3 linked regions of the Homo sapiens genome follow. The protein of the gene in region 3 interacts with the protein of the main gene of each other region in a pairwise test. Each region holds a gene or a part of one and is shown on either strand. Other genes may lie near its edges. The genes, in order: PPP1R8, THOC5 and PPIL1.

Region 1 (2,431 bases), on a different chromosome or scaffold from region 3:
GGCGCGTGCCTGCAATCGCAGGCATTCGGCAGACTGAGGCAGGAGAATCAGGCAGGGAGGCTGCAGTGAGCCGAGATGGCAGCAGTACAGTCCAGCTTCCGCTCCGCATGAGAGGGAGACCGTGGGGAGAGGGAGAGGGGGAGGGGGAGGGGGAGGGGGAGAGGGAGACACTCATTTTTACAGACCCTGTGGGGAAGTCAACTCTTTGCACAGCTGATGTTATGAATTTCTGTTCTTCAGAAGGTTGCTCCTCCTACGAGTCTGCACTTGACCCAAGGATCTGGAACCTAGCTGGCATCTTCATCTCAAAGCCACATGTAAGTCTCACAAACACAGTATACTTACTGCAAATGAGATTCCGTATGCAGGCATATTCCTTCAATTCAAATTCTTGCTGAAATCCCTCCTAAACTTACTTACCTTTAGCTTCCGTTTGCTCCTGTGTCACCAAGCTATGGCTCAAATGCACAGAGCTCTAACTGCAGGGTGGGTGATAGGGCTTATGCAAACGCCCTAAAGCCCCGTCTCCCGTCATGAGGTCTCCTGATGAAGGGCACCAAGCACTTCCGAACCAACGCTGCTTTGTGAGGCTTCAGTCTGGGGACTACATTCTCTCATTAGAATTTCCACACTCATTTAGGGCATCTTTATTTGTAATATAATGGGGATGGAGCATTGCCTCCCAAGCCCAGTGACTGTGCCTTTAGCAAACATTTCCAGATGGCAGTGGCAATCAGTGACTGAGAGACAAATTCACAGCCTGCACCCAAATGACAAAAGTTACGTTTAATTTACAATGTAATAAAGGTTACAGGTAAAAAGCTACACATAAAGCATGAAAAGGCCTATTACACAAATGTACAAATCTCTGTACAAAGCTTGTATCAATGTTTCCTAACTTTGTCTCCTATGTTTGTTAGCCAGGTCTAGTCTTGGAGCTCTGAATAACAAGAGCTCTCAATTGAGGGGGGAAAGAGCCTCCAAACTGACATCTAAAAATTCCTCTTAGAGACACCAGTTACTTCCAAACAAATCTTTTCCTTTTTAATTTGAATTACCCCAACTGGTCATATCCTTTGAAAACTGCCTTCATAATACACTTAAAAGTAATGCCTTAGAGTAGAGGACAGTACTCTGGAATTAAATAAGAAACTTCAGCAGGAGGAGTGCTCAGGTTTGACAAGAAAAACAGGTAAATTTCAAACAATACTGTAAGTTAAAACTATAAACCTGTGTCTATGGCACCAGTCACAGATGAAGGAAAATCGAAATGTTTTCATTCCAACAGGAAGGACAAAAGAGAAAAGCCTAGCTACTGGACCTCAAAACCACTGACCCAAGGAAACATTTTTTAGTTTAAACCTCAGCTTAACTGCAGAATTCTAAGCCTTCTTTTTGATCAAACTGAGATCTATGGCAACCCTTCTGCTACCCGGGACTTGGAAGGATAGTGAATATAAATTAGGCTCTGGACCCCCAAGGCTGGTGATGCTACTGTAACCTCTACAGCTCTGGATTCAACCTGAGGGCCTGGGATATGTGACTTTACATAAAAATGATCCTAGAAAGTGGGAGAAAGAAAGGAGGTAGTGGAAGGCCTAGGAAAGAGCCAGGGCAGTCTATTGAAAAGGATATAAGAAGCCTTTCTCTACAATGCAAGTGTTGTGAAGACAGGTCTTTATGGGCTATTTCAACCCCACCCCCAATTGTCATATTACATGGTTAGGATGCCAGGAGACATTCTGAAAGACGATACCGCACACATGGAAAGTTTTTCTCCCTAGTTCATTAGCTCCCCATCACCCTTCCACCCCATTCCCACCCAATCCCACCCTTCTCCATGACCAAAAATATCAAATCAGCAAGGAAGGTGTGGGCTTCTTGCCTGGCCAAGCCTCTTTTGCATATTTCTTCTTCTTGGGTTCATTTACAGCTTCAGGGTTATAGACTGCAGGGTTTGGTGCAGGGTTCATGTTCACTGCTGACGGCACAACAGGAGTCAAGTCCACATCAGGGGCAAGGTTTGGGTATGGCATGGGCAAGCCACCGATGAGTGCTGTCCCATGGATGCCATGTGGCTGGGAGCCTGCTTCACTGTGTGTGGGGGGCAGGCCCCCGTAGAGTCCTCCGCTGAAGGCAAAGTTCTGCATGCGCCTGCTCCCTGATTCCTCCAGGCCCAGGGAGCCAGGGCCCTCCACACGCTTCTTCTACAGTTCACGATGAGGAGAGGGGAGAGATTGGAGAGAGAAGACAAGAGGTGAGGCCCAAGAGTGGTTAGCTTTTTCTATTCCAGCCTTAAAAAAATGGCTTTTGGGAAAGATTCCTAACTTCTAGCCTGTTCTCCTTTCCAGACAACCTATTTCATGATGTTGAAATCTTACGGTTTGAAGAGACCTTTCCAGTCATCTACGATGGTTCCCAAACACTGCTC
Region 2 (3,500 bases), on a different chromosome or scaffold from region 3:
TTGCCATGTCTAAAGGGTACCCATCTTGGGGCATGGATAATCCAGGGTGCCGCAGACAGGCAGGTCCCAGGAGAGAGATGGTGCCCGGAGGAAGGGATGGGGGAGCACACGTGTATGTGTCTCATTGTCACTCACAGCAAACAGTGATTGCTGACCACTCGCTGAGCGCCAGCCACATGGAGACCACCATGAAACTTCTGAAGACCAGGGTGCAGTCCCGCCTGGCCCTCCACAAACAGTTTGCATCCCTAGGTAAGCTGATGATGGGGCAGTGGTTTAAGAGTCACTCAGACAACACACGGACAACAACAACTTAGCCTTTCACTCAAAACTTGAATCCTGATGACAAATACAAGACCTGGATTCCTGGCTTTACGGAGTGGGCATCTTGGCAGAGCCACTGGGGAGAGCTCCAGGCCTGTCCAGGCAGAGGACCGAGCTCCCCCTTAGAGCCATCAGTGCTGTCCTGCCTCACAGAGGAGGCCCAGAGCCATTGGGTGGCACAAGTTTGTGGACTGGTCGGGGCAGTTCATCCTAGGTCATGCATTGCAGATTTTGATGTGCATTCGACACATATTTAGTGAGATCCTGATTCATGCCAGGCACTGAGCATAGTGCTGGGGGAAGAACTGAGCACAGTGAACCCCTGCCCCTGGCTCTGTGGCTCACAGTCAGCTTTTTGAATATAGCTATCCAGGGAGCAACTCGCATATCCCTTCCCCAAGGCCTACTGACCTCGTGTTCCCCAGGGTGAGGCTGAGCCTATGTTTTCTTCTAAGCTCCCAAGTGATAATGATGAGCCACTGACTTAGGTGGTGGCATTTGGGGGCTTCTTTTAGTTTATTCACTCAGTAAGTGGTTGTCAAATGCTTACCATGTGGCAGGGGGATGGGGTCAAGATTTTTCTGACCTAAAAGAGTCTCTGGGACAGGCGCAGTGGCTCTTGCCTGTAATCACAGCACTTTGGGAGGCCAAGGCAGACAGATCACTTGAGGTCAGGAGTTCAAGACCAGCCTGCCAACATGGTGAAACTCCGTCTCTACTAAAAATACAAAAATTAGCTGGGCATGGTGGTGTGCACTTGTATTCCCAGCTACTCAGGAGGCTGAAGCAGGAGAATTGCTTGAACCTGAGAGGCGGAAGTTGCAGTGAGCTGAGATCGCATCACTGTATTCCAGCCTGGGCAACAAAGCGAGACTCCATCTCAAAATAAAAAGTAAAAAATAAAAAAGAGTCTCTGTCAGGAAAGGCATTGGGTTTCCAGGACACATCTGGAGACCACTCCCCACCAGTTCTTAGACTCCACATGGCTGCCGATCTCTCCAGAGCACTGATGTTTGTCCATCGGGCCGTGCTCCCCATCAGCACTGCTGAGTTTGTTTTGTCCCAAGGTAGGGAACTTGTCATTCTGGACAGTACTTACTGTGTTGGCATATTTGCTTATTTAAATGCCAGCAGGAATTTACCCTGGAGCAGTTATCTGGCTCTTCTCCCTGACACACAACACTTCAGTTGTTTCCTCCATCAAGGTCAGCTATGAAAACACAGGCCTCTATGCTATTTGATCTAATTAACAGTCACTGCTGCAGGGGCACCCTCCCTAGTTCTGACTGTAAGGGTTTTTCTTTGGCAGGCTATCATTTGCATTAAAGAGAAAGCACCATAAGTGCTGGCACTGGATCTGGCCACAAGCACATAGCACTGGGTGAAGGTCAGGTTGACATGCTTGCATTCCTGGCACGTGTTGACCTGGGTACTTCCTGAGTACCAGGTATACCAGGATAGCTGGCCGGGCCATCTGAGCCCTTCAGAGAGCCCCAGGAGGATGCTAGTTACCCATCTGTGGCACCTGATTTCTACCTGTGACGTCATCTGTCTTGTTCTCTTTTAGAACATGGCATTGTGCCAGTTACCAGTGATTGCCAGTACCTCTTCCCTGCCAAGGTTGTCTCTCGCCTGGTGAAATGGGTGACAGTTGCCCATGAGGATTACATGGTAGGTGAAGGAGTGACAAGTTACCCTTACTGTCCTGAGGATTGCAGGACCATGTCACCTTTCAGCTCCTGCCACCTCACTGGAAGAGCAGGGGGTTTAACCAGAGGAGCCAGCAGTTCACCTCTTGTCTGTGGTACCTCTTCTAGGAGCTGCACTTCACCAAAGACATTGTGGATGCGGGACTGGCTGGGGACACCAATCTCTACTACATGGCGCTCATCGAAAGGGGCACAGGTAATTGCTCTGCTGATTACAGGGGTTCTAGACAAAGGGCGCTGCCAAGAATCAAACACTCTCCGGGGCTGCCCAAAGCAGAAGATCCTGGAGTCCTGCAAGGACTTAACAGATAATAATGATCGTGAGAGCCTGTTCAGCAAGGACTCATTCTGCAACACAGTCACACACACGCTGTGTATCACTGAACCCTCACTGCAGTCCTAGGGGTGGTGCTTTCATTTCTATTTTACATGGGAGGAAATTCAGGCTTAGTTGCAAGCCCAGTCTGAGCGCTGAGCCTGAGCTCTTTGCTCCTTCCTTCACCGCTTTCTAGTACCGGACATCTCCTCCTTCTCCCTCTTCATAACAGGGCTGAGGTGTCACCCTCAGGTTGTAAAGGGCAGGGCCACAGGGCCTCGCTCCCTCTTCTGCAGTCCCTGCACTCACTTTAGAGGCATTGAAAGCTCTGATTCTTCATACCTCTTCTGGCATCTGACTCTGCCAGGGCTCCCTGCTGAAGTCCTGGGATGTTGTGTTTGGGCCGTTGTGCTGTTGTCCCACCCAAGCCGCAGCAAGCCTGGCACTGCCCGTGGGATCTGACACCCTCAAGACTTGGTGCTGAGCTGAGGAAGTTGTCTGTAGTTCTAAGACAGTTCCAGAACTGTAAGGAAAGGCTGAACTCTTTGGTATCAGAGTTTCTGTCCTCACTACCCCACTTTCTTCTCTTTCTATTCTTCATGTCTTTTAAAAAAAAAATTCTGAAGAAACTGAATATTTCAGATACAGTTGAGGCCTCCCTATCCCACTTTATTCCCTTTCTCCTAATAAGTGACCACTATTTGGATTTTATGCATTTGCTTTCCATCCTTTCCCCGCTACACCCTTTTTTTTTTTTTTTTCAGTAGAGATAAGGTCTTGCTTTGTCGCCCAGGCTGGAGTGCAGTGGCACGATCATAGCTCACTGCAATCTTGAACTCCTGGACTCAAGCAATCCTTCTTCCACCTTAGCTCCCTGAGTAGCTGCGACTACAGGTATGCTACCATGCTCAGCTAAGATTTTTTGTTTTTGTTTTTGTTTTTTTGTAGAGGCATGTTCTTACTATGTTGCCAAGCCTGGTCTCAAACTCCTGGCCTTTCTTCCAAAGTGCTGGGATTGTAGGCATCAGCCATCATGCCTGGCCTCTCCCCTTTCAAAATTTAATTTAACTTATTTTTTGAGACAGGGTCTTGCTCTGTTGCCTAGACTGGAGTACAGTGGCTCAGTCATGGCTCACTGCAGCCTCAACTGC
Region 3 (3,733 bases):
CGACAGTGGGCAATGTCTGGAGACAATTTGGGTTGTCACACTGAGTGGTTCTATCAGTATCAAGCAGTTAGAAGCCATCACGAAGCTAACCATCCTTCAATGCACAGGACAGCACCCCCTCCAACAAAGAATCATCCAGCTCTAAATGTCAATAGTGCCTAGGTTGAGAAATCCTGTTCCATCCCAGCAGTACATTCTTTTTTCCATATCATCTGCCATCCCTGAGAGTATATTATGTACTTTTTCATTCTCCGTCTCTCACCAGAATGAGAGCACCGCGAGGGCTTTCTTATTCACTGTTGTATCTCCAGCTTTTAGAAGAGTGCCTGGCCTACAGAAGGAGTCTAATAGGTATTTGTTAAATGAATTAACAATAAAAAAAAAAAACCAGTCACATTTGTTTGAGCTCCCACTTTGTGTCAAGCCCATGCTAACCACTGTACCAACATCAGCTCATTTACTACTCACAACCAGCCTAGGAGGTGCACGTAACCACACTCCCGACAGGTGAGCTGGCTCAGCAGGGTAAGGCAACTCCTCTACATTTAGTAAGTATTCATGTGAAGCACAAGGCAAGCCCAAGCTCCACAGTCCTGCTCTACCCTGAACCAAACTGTCTTGCCATAGTCCACAGCTGGATGAAATTTCCTCAGATTTGTCTTATCCCAGACTCAAGAGTCCCAAATGGTCCCTGAGTCATGCTCAATCAAATCTGAACTCCTCTGTCTAGGAGTCTCCATTAACTGGCCCCAAACTGCTCCTTACTGTCCCCTAAACAGGCAGTTCCGAGATCTGTAAATTTTACAGGGGCCTTTGAATCACATTTGATGCATTTGTTCTGGGTGTGGAGAGGTGGCTGGGTGATGTCACAAGAGCCAGTCTAGAGTGGAAGATGTGACACCGGGGGTGGCGGGCTCCCTCCCTACCCCTGCATGCCTCTGTCACTCCTGCCCTGTACCCACCCTTCTTCCTAAATTCAAAATGCCCTTCCCTCTACTTCCCAAGACCCATCTCGCATATGCCTCCTTCCCATCCTAATCTCATTCCATTGTGCTTTTTCCCTTATTGTGAATTACTCCAACCTATATTATATACATAATCCACACCGTACTATCATACATTTGCATATTTATATTATCCCATTCTAGTTGTTTCTTATAATGAATAGTTTGTTTCCTGGCAGGGCAGGGAACTGCAAGGAAAAAGAAAATGCCTTGGCTTTTAATGCTTAAGTGCTTCTCCCAGGCCTTAGAATAGCACAGGATACCCAGCAGACTCTTGGCAAATACTCATCAAATGAATAAAATTAACAGAGCTTGCTGTTCAACACGTTACATTTCAGGTGTTCCTGGGGCTACCAAGAGGAGAGATGAAATCAAAGTGAGAGTGACGCACAGGATAATCAGCATATAATTAATCACAGCAGCTGGTGAGCACTGTGAGGCCAAGTGCAGAGCAGGAAGAGCTAAAGGAAGAACTTGACAGGATGTTATGTCTTACAGAGAGGACAGAAAGGTTAGTAGAAACAAATAAAAGACACTCAGAGGGCTAAGGAAAGAGCCTCTATAGTTATTATAATATGGGAAAGTTGAAGGTAGAAAAATGGTTTAAAATGAAATGAAGCAGGAAGTCAAAGGGTATTTGAATTGACAAGGCATCTGGCAAAGATGTATTACAAGAAAGCATGTGGAAAGAATGGTTCCACAGTAGTCAGACTGAGGGACAGCTGGGAATGGAAGTGGTACATCAACTTGCTGAAGAGCCCAGGATGTCATTTGCTGCCCATCTGAGATGTTTAACAAAAAACGTGTCACCTAATCAGCTAGAAAATATGAACTAGTGACCCAGGAGAGCCTAACTCCTGCTTGCCTTCCACCATAGACCTGCCAGTGGGCTGCTCAGTCATTCATTATACTTGAGGCTGGGTGCAGTTATTTGAAGATCTTTTGAGTGATTCAATTTCATTAAAATTACACCATGGAAATGTGACATTATGAAGGATCATGAACCAACTACAGAAATACAGAAAAGCTGTGGCATGAGCAACTCACACCTGAGTCACTTCCAATACTTGTACCCTAATCATGGACTCTCAGTTCACTGGTATTAAGAATTAAAATTTATTTCATAACAACATGAGGGGGAGAGAGGAAGAAGACAGGAAAGAAGTACATCGAAGTACCGACGGAACCCTTTCAGACAAAGAAAGTAGAATGAAGCAGGACTAGACTCTGCCTCCCTGTTGTGCCGAACCTCTATTGACTCCAATGGGGATGGCATCAGGTTCAATAGACCGAAGAGACCTAATGCCAGCAAATGAGACATGGGGTTTTATTGGGGACTTACATACAGGGCAGAGAGTCCAATGGTGGCGGAGAACCACAATGGCTTGCAAAAAGCATGCAGTTTATATAGCATTTCCACTTAGCACCTTCTCCCTAACAATCTCCACCTGGCAATCTTCATTCAACTCAAAACTCGGGGCCTCAACCCGTGTGCGGCCCATGTTTCACAGGACGAGCCAGGGGCTCAGATGTCCCTTTATAGACAAGGAAGGAACCTCCAGGTTGGCTACTCCTGGATTCCCTAGCTCAGAACACACATTCAGATGCGTCTGCCATACAGGGTCATTCTAAGGGTATGTTTCAGTTATTGCTATCAGGCACGTTTACCACATGCTCCCAACACCCAATAAAGTGAACATACAAAAATTAAAAATTAAAAAGTCAAAAGTTCACCAGCATCAACCAAATAAGAAAAGGGAACCAAACATGCTAAAATTGTAAAAAGAGTCAGCCAAGAGGAAAAAATAGAAAATTCTTCCATCTGTATTCCCTGAAACCAGTAACCAGGAAAGAAATGTCATGCTGAGATTCTCACAAATACCCTCCGATTCTGAACAGCCAACAGGGGAGTGGGTGAGCAGCTCTGAAAACAAAGCCCTTGAGGGCAGAAGCCCACACATATCACAGGGGCTCGGGAGTGGCAGGGCAGGCACGCAGGGCTGGCCACCTTCCAGGGTGCTGGGCCATACTTGGGGACTACCCAGAGCCTGGAGTGGTGACAGAGGGACACCACTGGCTGGTGGAGGGGGCTCTGGGACAAGACTTTAAGGGAGTCTGGGAAGATAGAACAGAGGCTAGCCCTCCCACAAGGGGCTCGCTCAGCATGAGCTGAGCTCCAGTTCTCTCCCACACCTCTTCAGGCTAGAATAGAATAGAGAGAAAGCAACCTAACATTTGAAGTGGGGAAGACAACCAGTTCCACATAAGTGGGGAGAATGACAAGGAGACTCCACTTACACTGTATCTGAGCAAGTAAAAGGTGGGGATAATGTAGGTGTTGACATCAAGCATGGATAAGATGAAAACAAATGGCATGGAAACTAGGCAAACATACCACAACCAACAGAAGGACAGAAAGGAGGAGGGGAGAAAGGAAAAGAAAACCCAGGAACTCAGCCTGGGAGAAAGTGGCTTCTCCATGGCTATCTCAAGCTATGGATGATTCAAGAGAAGTAAAAATATAATATAACAAAAGCTCAAAGACAAGATAATACACCACAGAATAAGATGAAAAGATTGCAGAGTGAAGGAAACAAATTTAGATTCAAATGGCATCAGTAATGAGCTAGTAGATAAATTAGAGCAGTAAAGAACAGAATAAAAATGACTGAAAATTGAGTAAGGCACAGAGTAAAGGTCTGAGATTATTTTAGTGAATGCAGGGAAAA

What was found.
Region 1: the proteins of PPIL1 (region 3) and PPP1R8 interact in a two-hybrid assay, tested with the Homo sapiens proteins (one large-scale study listed by BioGRID and IntAct).
Region 2: the proteins of PPIL1 (region 3) and THOC5 interact in a two-hybrid assay, tested with the Homo sapiens proteins (one large-scale study listed by BioGRID and IntAct).

What each region holds. Positions count from the first base shown.
Region 1 is NC_000001.11:27,849,869-27,852,299, reverse strand, and holds the end of PPP1R8 (nuclear inhibitor of protein phosphatase 1), read right to left. Parts: intron 2,208-2,431; coding exon 1,854-2,207; 3' UTR 624-1,853; downstream 1-623. UniProt on the Homo sapiens protein: Inhibitor subunit of the major nuclear protein phosphatase-1 (PP-1). It has RNA-binding activity but does not cleave RNA and may target PP-1 to RNA-associated substrates. May also be involved in pre-mRNA splicing.
Region 2 is NC_000022.11:29,515,758-29,519,257, reverse strand, and holds part of THOC5 (THO complex subunit 5), read left to right. Parts: intron 1-137; coding exon 138-252; intron 253-1,891; coding exon 1,892-1,995; intron 1,996-2,141; coding exon 2,142-2,229; intron 2,230-3,500. UniProt on the Homo sapiens protein: Component of the THO subcomplex of the TREX complex which is thought to couple mRNA transcription, processing and nuclear export, and which specifically associates with spliced mRNA and not with unspliced pre-mRNA.
Region 3 is NC_000006.12:36,864,607-36,868,339, forward strand, and holds part of PPIL1 (peptidyl-prolyl cis-trans isomerase-like 1), read right to left. Parts: intron 1-3,733. UniProt on the Homo sapiens protein: Involved in pre-mRNA splicing as component of the spliceosome. PPIases accelerate the folding of proteins. Catalyzes the cis-trans isomerization of proline imidic peptide bonds in oligopeptides. Catalyzes prolyl peptide bond isomerization in CDC40/PRP17.